2 separate regions of the Homo sapiens genome follow, and region 1 is linked to region 2. The links come from fine-mapping of genetic effects on gene expression. A gene starts in region 2. The other region holds a variant in brackets. All regions are shown on one strand. Distances are between the middles of the regions.

The links.
Region 1: its variant is fine-mapped to the expression of NDUFB3 in whole blood (INTERVAL, PIP above 0.99).

The regions. Positions count from the first base shown.
Region 1 is chr2:200,912,929-200,921,418 of GRCh38, forward strand. It overlaps ORC2 (origin recognition complex subunit 2), which reads right to left. Exons shown (of 18, transcript NM_006190.5): 14 at 8,065-8,211; 15 at 7,294-7,465; 16 at 1,003-1,064; 17 at 367-485. Among named protein-coding and RNA genes, the nearest start is that of NIF3L1, 28 kb to the left of the region's middle. The variant C/CTT (reference allele first, on the strand shown) is at 4,065.
Region 2 is chr2:201,068,046-201,076,535 of GRCh38, forward strand. It overlaps NDUFB3 (NADH:ubiquinone oxidoreductase subunit B3), which reads left to right and starts at 3,956. Exons shown (of 3, transcript NM_002491.3): 1 at 3,956-4,014. HYCC2 (hyccin PI4KA lipid kinase complex subunit 2) reads right to left here and starts at 3,626. Exons shown (of 13, transcript NM_001321623.1): 1 at 3,565-3,626. RefSeq lists enhancers at 3,099-3,238, 3,229-3,854, 3,339-3,608, 3,629-3,718, 3,855-4,478.

The DNA of each region.
Region 1 (8,490 bases), 160 kb before region 2:
TTTTTGCTTACTACTGTATCCTAATACTTAGTGCAATATCTATGTAGTTAGTACTCAATAAATACAGACCAAATTAATGAATGAGCAAGAGGGAAAAAACAAAAGAACAGAATTATTTGACTCACCATGTTTCTAATTGCCTATTACTCTGGACTAGAACATGTGAGTTTTCTGCTCTGCTCTGAAGCAGGGTACTTCTACCATGGCTCTTTCTACAAACTCAAATGGCACATCCCCTAAATGAATCTCTGTGACTCAACAGGGAACATCAGTTTCAAAATCAGGTCTAAGTCAAACATATATGTGTCCTTAAGTAAATGATACGGACTATTCCTGGCATACAATGCTACAATAGTGGAGTCTTACCTTCTTTGTTCTTATAAGCTTGTGGTCCCTAAATTCAGTTAACTGGGCCCGGAGTGTCAGATCACTATTGACGAGGAATGCCTCCCGACACTGCTGGTAAAAATCTTGAAAAGAAAGGCCTGGCAAGTTCAAAAGGATATGAACATAAGTCAGCACTTAAGACATGACCCAATATACAAACACCCATACAAAAGAACAGAATAAAAGTGCTATTTGCATGTTATCCCAGAGCAGTGAACAAGTATTGATAGGACTTTTAAAGAAGGAACAAGTAAGTCATGAGAGCAGAACAATTATTAAAATGTTTGTTGAAATCATTTTTGCCAAAGGGGAAGAAAATCTCCTAAGATGCCTAGAATATGAAAAATATGTACTTGGCAGATACACATCCATAGTTAGCACAGAAAATTTTAAAAGTAAGCTGGGTTTGTCTTTCAATTTGTGTTGGCAAACACCTTGCTCAGCAGTGGATCTGTAGAGCTGCTTGAAAATTTGCTATGTGGCAGACATACCCATCATGAGTGACCACTTACTCACTGCTGTGAAAAACTGCACTGCTGTCATTAAATTCCAGAGACAGGAAATGTACAGGGTAAAACAAAAATTACACAATTGAATGTCATAAATATTGGATACCAATGTAAGAAGGGTTATCCTGGTTGTCCAGCTGGTATTTTATTAGTAGCCTGAAAATTCCCCTAAAAAAAAAAAAAAACAGGAATTTAAATCCAAAAATGTTAACATCAAAAGGTAACAACTAATAGTAAAATACACAAAGAAAATGTCAAGTAGTTGGCCTATCCGCATTATCTTCTGTTCCTCCAAGGAATATCATATCCTTGCCTACTTAAACAGAAAGCTTTCTAATTTCTTTTTTTTTTTTTTTTTTGAGACGGAGTCTTGCTCTGTTGCCCAGGCTGGAATGCAGTGGCATGATCTTGGCTCACTGCAAGCTCTGCCTCCCGGGTTCACGCCATTCTCCTGCCTCAGCCTCCCAAGTAGCTGGGACTACAGGTGCCCACCACCATGCCTGGCTAAATTTTTTGTATTTTTAGTAGAGATGGGGTTTCACCGTGTTAGCCAGGATGGTCTCGATCTCCTGATCTCGTGATCCGCCCGCCTCGGCCTCCCAAAGTGCTGGGATTACAGGCGTGAGCCACTGTACCCGGCCCGCTTTTTTATTTCTTCTAAAGAAAAATATAGGCTGAGTGTGGTGCCTCACACCTATAATCTCACCCCTTTGGGAGACTGAGGTGGGAGGACTGCTTGAGCCCAGGAGTTTGAGACCACCCTGGGCAATATAGTGAGACTCTGTCTCTATAAAAAATTAAAAAATTAGCCAGGCATACTGGTATGCGCCTATGGTCTCAGCTACTCGGGAGGCTGAGGTGCAAAGATCACTTGAGCCTGGGAGCTTGAGGCTGTACTTGAGTGACAGACACCCTGTCTCAAAAAAATAAAATATGAAAGTATTTTTTTCTTACTTTTTAGGTTAGTGTTGGTAGAAAAGCTGGAATACAGAATAACATCTAAAGAGAAAAATATCAATCCCATATCCATTAACACTTGGTGTTGAGATCATACTGGGTATGCTGTTATCTCAAATCTTTGTGCAATGAGGCGGGTGGAAATAACAGAAATTCACACATTTATATACTGCATATACCACTTTATACCTTGCTTCTTCACTTTTTGATTCTTCCCACGTCTTTTTTTTTTTTTTTTTTTTTTTTTTTTTGAGACAGAGTTTCGCTCTTGTTGCCCAGGCTGGAGTGCAATGGCGCGATCTTGGCTCACCGCAACCTCTGTCTCCCGGGTTCAAGCGATTCTCCTGCCTCAGCCTCCGAGTAGCTGGGATTATAGGCATGTGCCACCACCCCAGCTAATTTTGTATTTTTAGTAGAGACGGGGTTTCGCCATGTTGGTCAGGCTGGTCTTGAACTCCCGACCTCAGGTGATCCACCCGCCTCGGCCTGATTTTTCCCATGTCTTTAAAACTTCTCCTAAACAAGTTTTTCTTTTCTTTTTTTTTGCCACATGTAAGAAGAACTTAAGGAAGTTTTAACAACTGCTTATCTACCATGTACCATAAACTTACCATTTCCCTATTGGTTTGGATGTTTACATTATTTCTAAGTTTAGATTAAAAATAACTCTTAATGGATGACTGGATACAGAAAAAATAACTCAGCACTAAATAAAACTGTACGTATTTCTTTGTATTTTGAATTATTCCATGGAAGAGTGAACCAAGTAGAATTATGGGGTTAGAAGCAGTATTACACAAACTAAGACTCCCATCAGTCCTTGGGTATGCCAAAAATTCAAAACTTATATGAATTTTCATTGTTATGCAGGTCCAGAAAACAATTACTATAATCATATTTTGGATCATCTCAATGAACACTTTTTTTTTTTTGAGACAGAATCTCGCTGTTGCCCAGGTTGGAGTGCAGTGGTGCGATCTTGGCTCACTGCAACCTTGGCCTCCCAGGTTCAAGCGATTTTCATGCCTCAGACTCCTGAGTAGTTGCGATTACAGGTGGACACCACCACGCCCAGCTAATTTTTTATATTTTTAGTAGACACAACGTTTTACCATGTTGGCCAGGCTGGTCCTGAACTCCTGGCGTCAAGTGATCCGCCCACTTCAGCCTCCCAAAGTGCTAGGATTATAGGAGTGAGCCACCGCATCCGGCCCTCAATGACTACTTTTTAACTAGGTACTACTACTAACTCCAGAGCTGAATTTTGGTTAAAATTTTTATTCAATCACATACCAAGTAAAGTCTAAATGATACTGGAGTTTGCAGAATCAAGCAAAATTTCAAAATAGTTTAAATAAGAAAATGCTGAGGCTAGCACACAGACATTTAGGCATGCCAAACTAAAAAATACTTGCATTAGACTGGGCATGGTGGCTCATGCCTGTAATCCCAGCACTTTGGGAGGTCAAGGTGGGTGGATCACTTGAGGTCAAGAGTTCAAGACCAGCCTGCCCAACATGGTGAAACTCCATCTCTACTAAAAATACAAAAATTAGCCAGGTGTGGTGGTGCATGCCTCTAGTCCCCGCTACTTGTGGGATGCTGAGGCATGAAAATTCCTTAAACCCCAGAGAGGGAGGTTGCAGTGAGCCGAGATCTTGCCACTGCACTCCAGCCTTGGCGACACCATGAGTCTCCATCTCAAAAAAAAAACTTGCATCAGCGTAGCCAGTGCCATATTTAACGTTTTGAGTTCTCACACTGCATGGACCCTCAACTTTACACACAGCAACTTCCAACAGTCCTTCAGCAGTTAAGGACTTTTATTATTAGTAATAACAAAACAGAATGAAGACTTTGTCCCCAATTCCATCAAAAAATTTCATTAGATAACCATTTAATGCCTATTTCAATTTTTTTATTTTATTTTATTTTATTTGAGACGGAGTCTCGCTCTGTCGCCCAGGCTGGAGTGCAGTGGTGCGATCTCGGCTCACTGCAAGCTCCGCCTCCTGGGTTCACGCCATTCTCCTGCCTCTGCCTCCTGAGCAGCTGGGACCTCAGGTGCCCGCCACCACGCCCGGCTAATTTTTTAGTAGAGATGGGATTTCACCATGTTAGCCAGGATGGTCTTGATCTCCTGACCTCGTGATCTGCCCGCCTTGGCCTCACAAAGTGCTGGGATTACAGGTGTGAGCCACTGTGCCCCAC[C/CTT]TTTTTTTTTTTTTTTTTTTGAGACAGAGTCTCACTCTGTTGCACAGGCTGGAGTGCAGTGGTGTGATCTTAGCTCAATGCAACCTTTACCTCCTGGGTTCAAGCGATTCTCCCTCCTCAGCCTCCCAAGTAGTTGGGATTACAGGCATGCACCACCATGCCCAGCTGATTTTTTAATTTTTAGTAGAGATGCGGTTTCACCATGTTGGCCAGGCTGGTCTCGAACTCCTGACCTCAAACGATCTGCCTGCTTCAGCCTCTCAAAGTGCTGAGATTACAAGCATGAGCCACCGCGCCCAGCCTGCATATTCCAATATTAATGCAAGGCTTTATTTTTACTTTTTGTAGAGATGGGGTCTACGTTGCCCAGGTTCGTCTCAAACTCCTGGCCTCATGCAATCTTCCCTCCTCAGGCTCCCAAAGTAGTAGAATTATAGGGGTGAGCCACTATGCCTGGCCGAGTTGAATGCTAATCTCATCTTCAGTGTTCAAATCAGCTTTACAGAGTAACAACATTCATTAAAATTAGCATTTGAGGGTTAACATTTGAGTCTTGTGGTGATGGTACAGCTGAGTGTATACATGGAGGTGGCAGTCATACAAGGCTACAAGTGACAAAACTGCACAGAACTTACACACACGAGTGCAGCATGTATAATAGTGAAATCCAAATATGGATGGGATTATAACAATGTCAATTTCTTGGTTCTGATACTGTACTGTGTTTATATGAGATGGTGGTGGTTGGTGGAAGTTGGTGCTTTGGGAGGAGGGTACATGAGACTTCCCTGCATGTATTTTTGTAGCTTCTTCTGAATCTATAATCATCTCACAACAAAAAGTTAATCCCTCCACCACAAACACACAGGTAAAAGAAAAATAAATGGAAAATAAATTGCTAGGGGGGGTTAAAAAAAAAAAAGATATCCCCAAAGTCCCTGTGTACACTCTCCTCTATCTATTCCCCTTTATTCTTCTCCAGGGTTGGTACCTAATTTTTTTTTATTATTTTTAGTACCTAAAAAGACCTAATTCCATGCACATTTTAAACTTTTATTCATACTGATATATACATTTGAATGCTATATATTTTATATGGTTTTATTTCTACAACAAACATCTGTTCAGTTCAGCATTTGTCCTAAACGAAAATATCTGGTTTGGACAATATATATCGTCACACTACTATCATCCCATATAAGTCAATATCCTGGCTGCCAATGCTGCTTCTAAACCAAGAATGCAGCTGTGCTGTGGCTTCAACTCTGCTCACTGATTTATCATTCTGTTGTATTGAGATGTTTGTATTTTGAGCCAGGGTATTTATTTTTAAATTCTGTCTATTATGCTGTGTGTTTGGAACAAGAGGGGATGAAAGGAAAGAGTGAGAAGTATTATGCCATCTTGACCACAAGTGTCCCTTCATTGCTCTTTAAAAACAAAAAAGAAATTGTCTCTGCTAGACTTGCTTGTTCCCTCTTTTTTTCTTTTTTCTTCTTTCTTTTTTTTTTTTTGAGACAGAGGCTCACTCTGTCACCCAGGCTGGAGTGCAGTGGCGTGATCTTGGCTTACTGCAACCTCCGCCTCCTGGGTTCAAGCGATTCTCCCACTTCAGCCTCCCAAGTAGCTGGGATTACAGGTGTGTGCCACCAAGTCCGGCTAATTTTTGTGTTTTTAGTAGAGACAGGGTTTCAGCATGTTGACCAGGATAGTCTCGAACTCCTGACTTCAAGTGATCCACCCGCTTCGGCCTCCCAAAGTGCTGGGATTACAGGTGTGAGCTACCACACCCAGCTGACTGTTTATTCTTTAGGAAACTAAATTTTCTTTCAAATTTAAAACAAAAAAATTCATTTACATTTTGACTAATTTATAGATCTAATACCTGTTTTTCTGGAGACAGGGTCTTGCTCTATCACCCAGGCTGGAGTGCAGTGGCGCAATCTCGGCTCCCTTCAGCCTCCTCAGCTGAGACTATGGGTGTACACCACCACACTCAATTAATTTTTAAAATTTTTTGTAGAGATGTAGTCTCCCTATGTTGCCCAGGCTGGTCTCAAGGTCCCAGCTGGAGCAATCCTCCTGCCTTAGCTTCGCATAGTGTTGGGATTACAGGCTTGAGCCACTGTGCCTGGCAAGTCTAACACATTTCTAACTTGGAAAGAATTGCTACTCTTATAATATTTAATCTACCCACCCAAGAACACAATATTTCTTTTCATCTATCCAGCTCTTAATTATCTATTCTCAGCAAGGTTTGTTATTTTTCAACACTTCATCTTGTTAAATATAATTCTATAATTTTATGCTTTTGTCAGGGGGTAAAGTTTGTTACTAAAAGCTTCTTTCAACAGGCTAATTATGCAATTTCTTTATTATTTTTTTGAGACAGAGATTGCTCTGTCACGCAGGCTGGAGTGCAGTGGTGCAATCTCAGCTCACTGCAACCTCTGCCTCCTGGGTTCAAGCAATTCTCCGGCCTCAGCCTCTTGAGTAGCTGAGACTACAGGTGCGTGCCACCACACCTGGCTAATTTTTGTATTTTTGGTAGAGATGGGGTTTCCCCATGTCGGCCAGGCTGGTCTCGAACTCCTGACCTCAAGTGACCCACCTGCCTTGGCCTCCCAAAGTGCTGGTATTACAGGTGTAGGCCACTGCGTCCGGCTAATTATGCAATTTATTTTTTGCTGGCTTATGCTATAACCAGCTTGCATTTATTAATTCAGATATGCCTCTAGGTTAGGCTGCTGTAAGGGCTTGACTGGAGACATTATACAGTGATGTTTAAGAGCATGAGTTTTGGAGCTGGCATATCTGGATCAAAGTCTTTGTGCCACTGACTATCCACCTTAGTTAGGATCAAATGAAGTAATGCATATAAAGTACTCACTGTTTGGATCAGAATGTTCAATATGTAATGAAAAATAACCATAAAATTTAAGTAAAAGTCATGAAAAGTCTGCTTTTTCTCCATTATGACCAGTCAGGTGCTCATATTCAGAAATATCAAAGAAATAAAAAGTTGGTATTCTCGCTTTATTACTGGGCAATTTGATAGACTACTGTTGACTTGTCTGCCTACTCCATAATCCAGTACTGGTAACTATTATTACTATAATTTCACTTAATCCTTCAACTAACTAGGGACTTCAGTATCCCCATTAAAACCTAGTAGTACATATCTTAAAATGTATAGTTTTTAAAAAAGAAATATGGTTTTCATCCTTACCTTGCATTAGGGGTAAGGCTTCGTAAGACATGAGTAAGGGAGCTAAGTGGCAGGGATCCAGACTGCTTTACCAGAAGAGAGTTCTCATAGGAGGTTTCTTCAGTATAAGGACTGTATGTAGTAGTTTCATACCAGAGCCAGTTAAAAAGACTCTGCTTTGCATGATCCCACACTAGCACATGATCAAAGAAAACAAGAATTACAAATTATTTTTATATTGTCATGTTACTAGATTCCACTTTACAAAAGAATGAGAAAGGATTAAATAAAAATGAATCCCCAAGTTTTTCATTTTTGCCACTTCCATATCTAAATCAGTAACTCACAATCTAATTTCATTTTCAACCAACATCTGAACCTTTATTTTCAATTAAGCATAAATTAAAATCTTAGCACTACCAATGCATTCTTTTTAAAAAATTAGTAATGTTTTAACATTTTCTTCTACAGGATTATCAGAAAGTCTATAAATTAAGTTCATAAAATAAATGTTGCGATATTACAAGAAGAGAAAGAGACCAAAATAATAGTTGGGTCTTTTCCCTCCATTTAACTTTAGACTAAAACATCCTCATTTAGTATCTGAATTTTTATTTCCAAAAATTATGTTCTAAATTAGATTGAGAACATCTTTTTGGCAACCTGTGTTTTTAAACATGTAAAAGGGGAAAAAGCGTACTAAAAACAGTAAAAATTTTCTGATTTATATTAATAGAATTTGTCTTGTAAGACTGATATCTCTAGAAGGAAAAATAGTAACAATTAACTTACTGAGAGGAGCATTGAGGTGGTCAATGGATGCTATAAGGTAAATGTTATGCAAAGATGACAACTGACCAATGATTTGCTGGCTCTTCTCTCCTCTCAACATCTGGCTATCCAAATTGTGGATGAGAAGGAAGAGTTCTAAAGAAGAATCTAAAAAGAAAAGAAATCCAATTATTATTATTATTATTTTTAGAGGGTCTCACTCTGTTGCCTAGGCTAGAGTGCAGTGGTACAATCATAGCTCACTGCAGCCTCCAACTCCTGGACTCAAGCAATCCTCCCACCTCAGCCTCTCGATTACCTGGAACTAGGCGCACACCACCATGCCTGGCTAATTGTTTTTTTGGTAGAGACGGGGTCTCACTAAGTTGCCCAGGTTGGTCTTGAACTCCTGGACTCAACTTGGCCTCCCAAAGTGCTAGGATCACA
Region 2 (8,490 bases):
AGGCCGAGGCAGGCGGATCACCTGACGTCCGGAGTTCGAGACCAGCCTGACCAACTTGGAGAAATCCCGTCTCTACTAAAAAAAATGCAAAATTAGCCGGGCGTGGTGGCACATGCCTGTAATCCCAGCTACTCCGGAGGCTGGGGCAGGAAAATGGCTTGAACCCGGGAGGCAGAGGTTGCTGTGAGCCCAGATCGCGCCACTGCACTCCAGCCAGGGCAACAAAAGTGAAACTACGTCTCAAAAAAAGAAAAAAAAAAGCTATCCTAGCTATGACATGAAATGGTGACAATTTATTGAGCTATAAAAGTATTAGTAAATTAGTAGATTTGGCAGCCCTTTCTCTAAAGCTGAAACTACTGTTACTGCTTCATACCACAAGTGCTAGAGCCTTGAATTAGACCAAGGCACTTCCACTCTGAAGTGGAAGCCAGTGGTGAACCAAATTAATCAAGGGAATTTGTTTCCAAAATACATCTACCCCCTTCACACTCCTCCCATCCGTAAAATTCTGAAGGGAAGTGGAGATGATATAAGTGATATGTGTATGCCTTTTTAAAAACTCCTAAATTGTTTTGAGGTATCTATTTCCAACTCCATGAAGAATTCTTAAATTAGGTCCAAACTTTTTCAAAACACTGTATCTATCACAGGCTTAAGGAGCAGAGCTACAAAGTGACAAGGGCTCAACAGAAGGCTAGGAAGGTAAGGAGCTGTACTCGGAACAGATGTAAGCTACTTTCAGAGCTTTCTGTGCTGGCTCCCTCCAGAATCCACTACATTTTAGTCAGTGATAAATGTTCAGTTCCACATCCCAAGAAAAGAACATAGGCTACTGACCAGATAAAGTGTAAAAAGAAGCAATTCTGGAAATCAAAAAAAAGATAATAAGCCACAGACGATGACAGACAAAAAAATCTTCTGTTCTGGCTTTAAAAGAACAGTAACTCGGAACAAGGATCTCTAAGGGGAAAAAAAAAGAACAATACAAAGTACTGGTATGATAACTAGTTTTGAAACTTCTGCCCATATTTTATCAGTTTTTCACTATGTAGCATTGGTTTTTCTATAAGACTCAGTCAAGCTGAAAATTTCAATCATTCTAGAACTTAATAAACTACTACAAGATGCCAAAACTGTATTGCAAATAATCAAACTTAAATCTGAATTGCATGTCAAGACAGTTAAAGGGCCGGGCTAAAAAACACACTTTCAAGGTCTATTTTAGGGCAAACAATTAAACTCCTTTACAATCATTGTTTCAAATTCCTTATAAACAGCTCCAATACTGAAATGTTTCATCAGAGAGAACTTCTATAACGTATAAACGATCATCTAACCACACTATATGCTAATTTGGACTAGTGTTTCTTTAGCTACTTGGTAATTTCCTACTCGATACTCAACTTACTGCATTCTACAATGACACCTACTGGCCATTCAAAATCAGCCATTAGTTCTCTAAGACAGCTCTAGTAGGCTGGTTACATAAGAAGAAACACACACACACACACACACACACACACACACACACACACACACACGCATAAAAGCAACACACACACACACACGCATAAAAGCAAAGATTTAACTGGTACTCAAAACACTACAGAATTCCACCTAAAATAGAACCAGAAATTTTCTTTGTGACTGAGATTGCATTATTCTTGGAAAAGGAGAAAAGACAAAGAACAAAACACCAAACATCAATAAAAATTTTTATCTAAAGCACTGACAAATGTCTCAGTACTGAGAACATCTGGGAACAAACAACTTTAATGATGCACCTCTTTCCCAATTAAATTTTTGAGAAAAAATGAAATTTTGATTTAGGTTCATATATAGGAATATAAATTACCATTAATAGAAAAAAATCACATCTTATAAAGTTTTTCTGACATGCAGTACCGAAATAAATTTAGGAAAATTGTAGAGTTGCTGACACTACATTAGACCTTATCTCCTAAGCTAAAGGCAATATTTCAAACACCTTACATTTTAGAAATTTATAACACTTCTTTTAAAATCATTTTCCAGTGCTGCTCTCAAAATTGTTTTTCAATGACCTACAAAATCAAGTTTTTATGTCGTTTGCCCTTCCATAACACATACTGAATAGAATTCCTATTTTAATTCTACATTTTATTGTGGAAACAATGAATTATAAAATTTTTTTAAATAAGATAATTTAGTTAATTATATCTATAAATATATTTTGCCTCTGTCCGAGAGGTTCAGAGTCCACTTTTTAAACCTAATAAATAATTCATAAGTAGCTTCTCAGACTTGCTTACAGAACAAACTACTTAAAAGTTGACTTTTTTCTGCCGGGCACGGTGGCTCACGCCTGTAATCCCAGCACTTTGGGAGGCCGAGGCGGGCGGATCATCTGACGTCCGGAGTTCGAGACCAGCCTGACCAACATGGAGAAACCCCGTATCTACTAAAAATACAAAATTAGTCGGGCGTGGTGGCGCATGCCTGTAATCCCAGCTACTCCGGAGGCTGGGGCAGGAGAATGGCTTGAACCCGGGAGGCGAAGGTTGCTGTGAGCCGAGATCGCGCCATTGCACTCCAGCCTGGGCAACAACAGCGAAACTCCGTCTCAAAAAAAAAAAAAGTTTATTTTTTTCCCCATATTCAGACCACCACCTTATTTGCACAGTCCCTAACTTCCACAATATCCTGGGGGGAGGAAGGGATCTACCAACTAATTTTCTAGTCATTTTCCAACTTACACTGAGCTCCTACTGTACATTTTTAAAGGATTCCCCACTTTTCTGAAGATCTTTAAAAAATGTTGTCAGCCTTGACCCTCAAATAAATTCACGAACTACAAAACATGAACCTGGCCACATTCATCGCAAACTAGTATCTGTCAAGTCCATAATTGGGATAAGCTCTTCGTGACTACTCTATCCTCCATGCTACCACCCTTCGCCTAGAGAACCTGCCAATGTAAATGGCACTCAAGCCAATGAAAAAAGTGTTCTAACACATTAATAGGTTGCAAGACCTCCTCTCCCAGGAGGGACAACCTAGTTGTTTGGGTAAATAACAGCCAAAGATTACATAATGTACAGCAATAATGAGTGTTCAGAATCTGACCGCCAGTAAATATTTTTCTTCTCCGCTCCCCCTCACCACCCCCAGGAAATGGCCCTAAGAAGCAATCACTGGGATTTCTCTTAACTGTCTTCAATGCCGTGTCCTTTTCTCGCCTGGGGCTTTGTGCAAAGAATCCCTTCAGCCCTCACGACACCGCCTTGCTCCCGCCTCTCCTCCCTCTCTGCTGGCGCCACCGCAGCCCCCACGCCCTAGGTGGGCCCCCACGTCGCCCCACAAGGCTCGGCTTCCACCCGCCTCGGCTGCCGCCTTCTCCTCCTCACGACCCTCCCAAGATGCTACCTGGTTTACGAGAGGTTCCGGGACCACCAACACACCGGCTACCGCCTTTCCAGACCACCCTCGCCAGCTCCCGTCTGTAGTTTCCGCGGCCGAAGGAGAAGAAAACCCCTCTTCATCTAGCACTTTGCCTCCCCCAAAGACAGCACCGCCGCCTACCTGTCACCCTGCTGTCTCCGGCTTCCTACCGCCGCCGCCTCCCGCAGCAGCCTGCCAACTGCAGCGCAACAACCAACCCTCTCATTGGGTGAGAACACGCTCTCAACAACAGCCTCCCTTATTGGCTGCAGTATGCCGGCAGCCCCGCCCTGTGTGCGGTGTCTAAGGATTCCGTCCCCAAGCAAGGACAACATATTATCTTCCCCGCCCTTCTCTTTTCTACAGTATCTGTTACCTCAGTCAGATTGAGGATGCACATATACTGGGAAAATAATCGACTTCCAGCGTCCCTCATGTAGTCTCTACCTGATTCAGGAATCTCTAACCCAGTATCGGAACGTTAAGCGGCTTCTCCGCTTTCCTGCCGTGAGAAACTCGAGGTGACAACCTCCGTTTCCGGTTGGCTCCGGTTGCAGAGTTGAGTGTCCTGAGAGGTCAGATTGCTGTCAGGTAAATTAGGGAGTTGGTGGGAGGCCCGTTGATTAGGATTAAGAGCTAGACTCTATTCTGGGGAGTGCAGAAAAGGAGAGACTAAATGGAGAAGGATGGGAGGCTGGGAGGGAGATCAAAGAACTAGCAGGCGAGAACTAATGAAGTCCTAGTTTAGAGTTGGGGTAGGAAGAGGTGGTTGGAGGATTCAGTGATCATTACTGTAGTTGTTAAATCCAGGTGCTTGTTCCCGCTTCTGCCACACGCAAAATTGTCTTTGTTTGCCTTTGGATCGCAAAGGCAGAAGAACAGCATCACTAAAAGTAATAACAGTTCATTTGTTTTTTATGTTCTAATATTCATATAATCACAGTTTTTAATACGAGGAAGTTAAGATATATACTTGATAGTCTTCGGTAAACTAAAATTGCATGTAGTGGAAGTAGCATTATCTTCTTATTTCTTTCTTAGGGAAAGGATACCAGCACATTTTCTTAGAGCCAGCTTCCTTTAGTGGAGGTTGATCTTCATGAGACTTTTAGATTCACTTCAGACATAGATAGCTTTTAAAATTTTTGGTTGCATGTTTTTTCTTTATTTAACTAATTTCCTTACTGTTATTATTTGAGCTGCTCTGAAACGGAAATAACCACCATTTTTCAGTCCTCAGCACAATTTAAGTCAATTTTTCTATTTTTATTTTTTATTGTCAAGTATATATACAGAAGGGTGTATAAAACATACATTTTAAAAAATTATAACTAACAGAAGCAGACACTCCTGTATCCACCTCTTAGATTAGAAAATAAAGCATTGCCAATAACTTAGAACATGCAGTCTTAACAGGGGTGATTTTACATTTCAAGGGGTTGAAAATTGGTGGGGCCGGGGTCGGAATCTTAGTTACTACAATGATTTGTGTCCCTCCAAAGGGCCACAGTATATAAACAGTTATACAGTATATATGTAGTGTTAAATTTTCATGGCGGGGGGTGTGATTAGGAATAAAATGTCTAGAAAGGTTCCTTACAGGGACAATAGTTAAAAATTGGTTGAAAAACACTGCCTTAGAATCTCCCAGTATGTTTCTGTGATTCCATCTCCTCCACCAAGAGGTAACCATTATCCTGACTTGTGCTAAGCACTCACTTGTTTTACTTTAATTTTTCCGTCTATGATGAATTCCTAAAAAATGAATTGTTAGGCATTTCAATCTATATAAATGGGTTCAGAGTGCATGTGTATTTTTTTCTGACTCACCCCTTGCTCATTATCCATATTTGTGGAGATTCAATCACACTTTTGCATGTAGTTTTTTGTTGTATAATATTCTACAGTGTGACTATACCATAATCCCTTCTATTGTTATTGGACATTTGGGTTGTTTACAGTTGGGAGAGAGAATAAACAATGTGGCTATAAAGGTTCTTTTAAAAACATATTTCTTAGGCTGGGCACGGTGGCTCACGCCTGTAATCCCAACACTTTGGGTGGCCGAGGCAGGCGGATAATGAGGTCCAGAGATCGAGACCATTCTGACCAACATGGTGAAACCCAGTCTCTACTAAAAGTACAAAAAATTAGCCGGGTGTGGTGGTGCACGCCTGTAATCCCAGCTACTCGGTAGGCTGAGGCAGGAGAATCACTAGAACCTGGGAGGCGGAGGTTGCAGTGAGCCGACATTGCACCACCCACTGCACTCCAGCCTGGCGACAGAGTGATACTCCATCTCAAAAAAAAAATTTGTTTTTTTTTAAAGACTAGAGGCTTGATGTCTCTAAGAAAATATTTTAAATATATTTTTTATATTCCATAAATATAAACCTTTGATCTGTGATTATGTTTATAAGATTTACAGTTGATAAAGTAGATTCATATATCCAAATTGTTCCAAAGACACTTTTATTTATTTATTTTATTTGTATATTTTTTGAGACAGAGTCTCGCTCTGTCGCCCAGGCTGGAGTGCAGTGGCGCGATCTCGGCTTAGTGCAATCTTCACCTCCCAGGTTCAAGTGATTCTTCTGTCTCACCCTCCCTAATAGCTGGAACTACAGGCATGTGCTACCATGCCCAGCTAATTTTTTTATTTTTAGTAGAGACGGGATTTTGCCATGTTGGTTAGGCTTTTCTTGAACTCCTGACCTCAGGTGTTCCACCTGCCTCAGCCTCCCAAAGTGCTGGGATTACAGGCGTGAGCCACCGCTCCTGGCCTCCAAAGACACATTAATATTTTCTAATAACGATTTGATCATCTGTTTTGAGATTAAGTTAATTAAAATTAAATTAAAATTCCCAGTTCCCAACTGCACCAGCCACATTTCAAGTGCTAGTGGCTACCATATTGGACAGTGTCTATCTAGAATATATGTACTAGGAGTGGAATTGATGGCCATAAGGTATTCATATGTTCAGCTTTTTTTTTTTTTTTTTTTTGAGATAGAATCTCACTCTGTCACCCAGGCTGGAGTGCAGTGGCGCAATCTCGGCTCACTGCAACCTCCACCTCCTGGGTTCAAGTGATTCTCATTCCTCAGCCTCCTGAGTAGCTGGGACTACAGGTGTGTGCTACCACACCTGGCTAATTTTTGTATTTTTAGTAGAGACAGGGTTTCCCCATGTTGGCCAGGCTGGTCTCAACTCCTGGCCTCAAGTGATCCACCTGCCTTGGCCTCCCAAATTGCTGGGATTACAGGCGTGTGCCACTGCGCCCAGCCATGTTCAGCCTTTCTAGGTCTTGCCAGTTTTTCAGAATGGTTGTGCTTAGTTACATTCTCACCACCTAAGTATGAAAGTAGAAGGCACATCACAATGTGTTTTCCTCAGCTCTCACGATCTTGCAAGGTAGGTTTTATCTTCATGTTATATGAAGAAACTGAAGTTCAGGGAAATTAAGTGATTTGCCTTGGATTTTACTTTTACTAGTGCAAAGTAGGAGAATTTCAAGCTCTTACTTTACAGGTCACGATATCATTGTTTGATTTATGGCTATTTGGAAATAGAAATAAGTTTAAAAAGAAAAATGGGCCAGGTGCCATGGCTCACGCCTGTAGTCCCAATATTTTAGGAGGCCAAGGAGGGAGGAATGCTTGAGGCCAGGAGTTCAACAGCAGCCTGGGCAACATAGGAAGATCCTGTCTGAAAAAAAAAAAAAAAAGAAAAAGAAAAAAGAAAATGAAAGGTTTCCTAGAGAAAGTGTTTTCAACTTTCTGCTCTTTTTGAAAAGTCATTTATATGTTATATTTAGCCGGGCACCGTGGCTCATGCCTGTAATCCCAGCACTTTGGGAGACCCAGGTGGGCGGATCACAAGGTCAGGAGATCGAGACCATCCTAGCTAACACGGTGAAACCCCATCTCTACTACAAAATGCAAAAAATTAGCCAGGCGTGGTGGGGGGTTCCTGTAGTCCCAGCTACTCGGGAGGCTGAGGCAGGAGAATTGCTTGAACCTGGGAGTCACAGGTTGCAGTGAGCCAAGATTGCGCCACTGTACTACAGCCTGGGCGACAGAGCGAGACTCTGTCTCAAAAAAAAAAAAAAAAAAAAAAGGTATATTTAGTAAATTCCTATGAAAAGGATACTTCTGAAATAATTAGGTAGAAGAGAAAATACATTGAATGTATTTAAATAAACTTGTATAGGAGAAATGAGGGTATGTACGCTTTCATGTTTTCTTTCAAAGATTTATCTTTCAAATTACTTGTTTAAGCACAGTAGTATTGTAATTTTGAAATAGTCTTTATACCATGGTAATGTTTCAAGTTTTATTTTCAAAAACTATTCTATCAAAATTCTTGACCCTTTGTTTTATACTCTCTTCCAAATACACTGATACTCAGGTTGATATTCTAGAATTGACATTTGCCAAAATAAGGGTTTGTCTTGTTTTAAGTGTTTTTAAAATGAAGCCTTATTTTAAAAAAGATTTTTTGAAAACATGGTATGCAGAAGCCAAGACATTATCATTCTAAATAAACACTTGTAATGGTCTTCGTTTGTAATAAATGTATTCAGTCTCAAAAGTCAGTCTGAAGTCTGACACCATAATTTTTTTCCTTCATTTTATTGAATCTACCAAGTAATAATGGGTTAAATGTTTCATTCAGAGTTGTGTTGTAATTTTAACTTGTGTTTGAGAGTATCGGTTTTCATTTTCATTTTCATTTAAATGTGAAAATCCTCCTGGGTGTGGCTGTAATCCCACTGTAATCCCAGCATTTTGGGAGGCCTATGCCAGAGGATCAAGGATCACTTGAGGCCAGGAGTTTGAGACCAGCCTGCACAACATAGGGAGGGTCCATCGCTATAAAACATTTAAAAACTAGCCAGGCGTTGTGCACACTCCAGTCCTAGCTACTCAGGAGGCTGAGGCAGGACAATCACTTGAGCCCAGGAGTTTGAGGCTGCAGTGAGCTATGATCCAGAGCAAGACCCTCTATCTTTAAATATATATATATATATATATATATATATAATTAAATGTGAAAATCATCAAC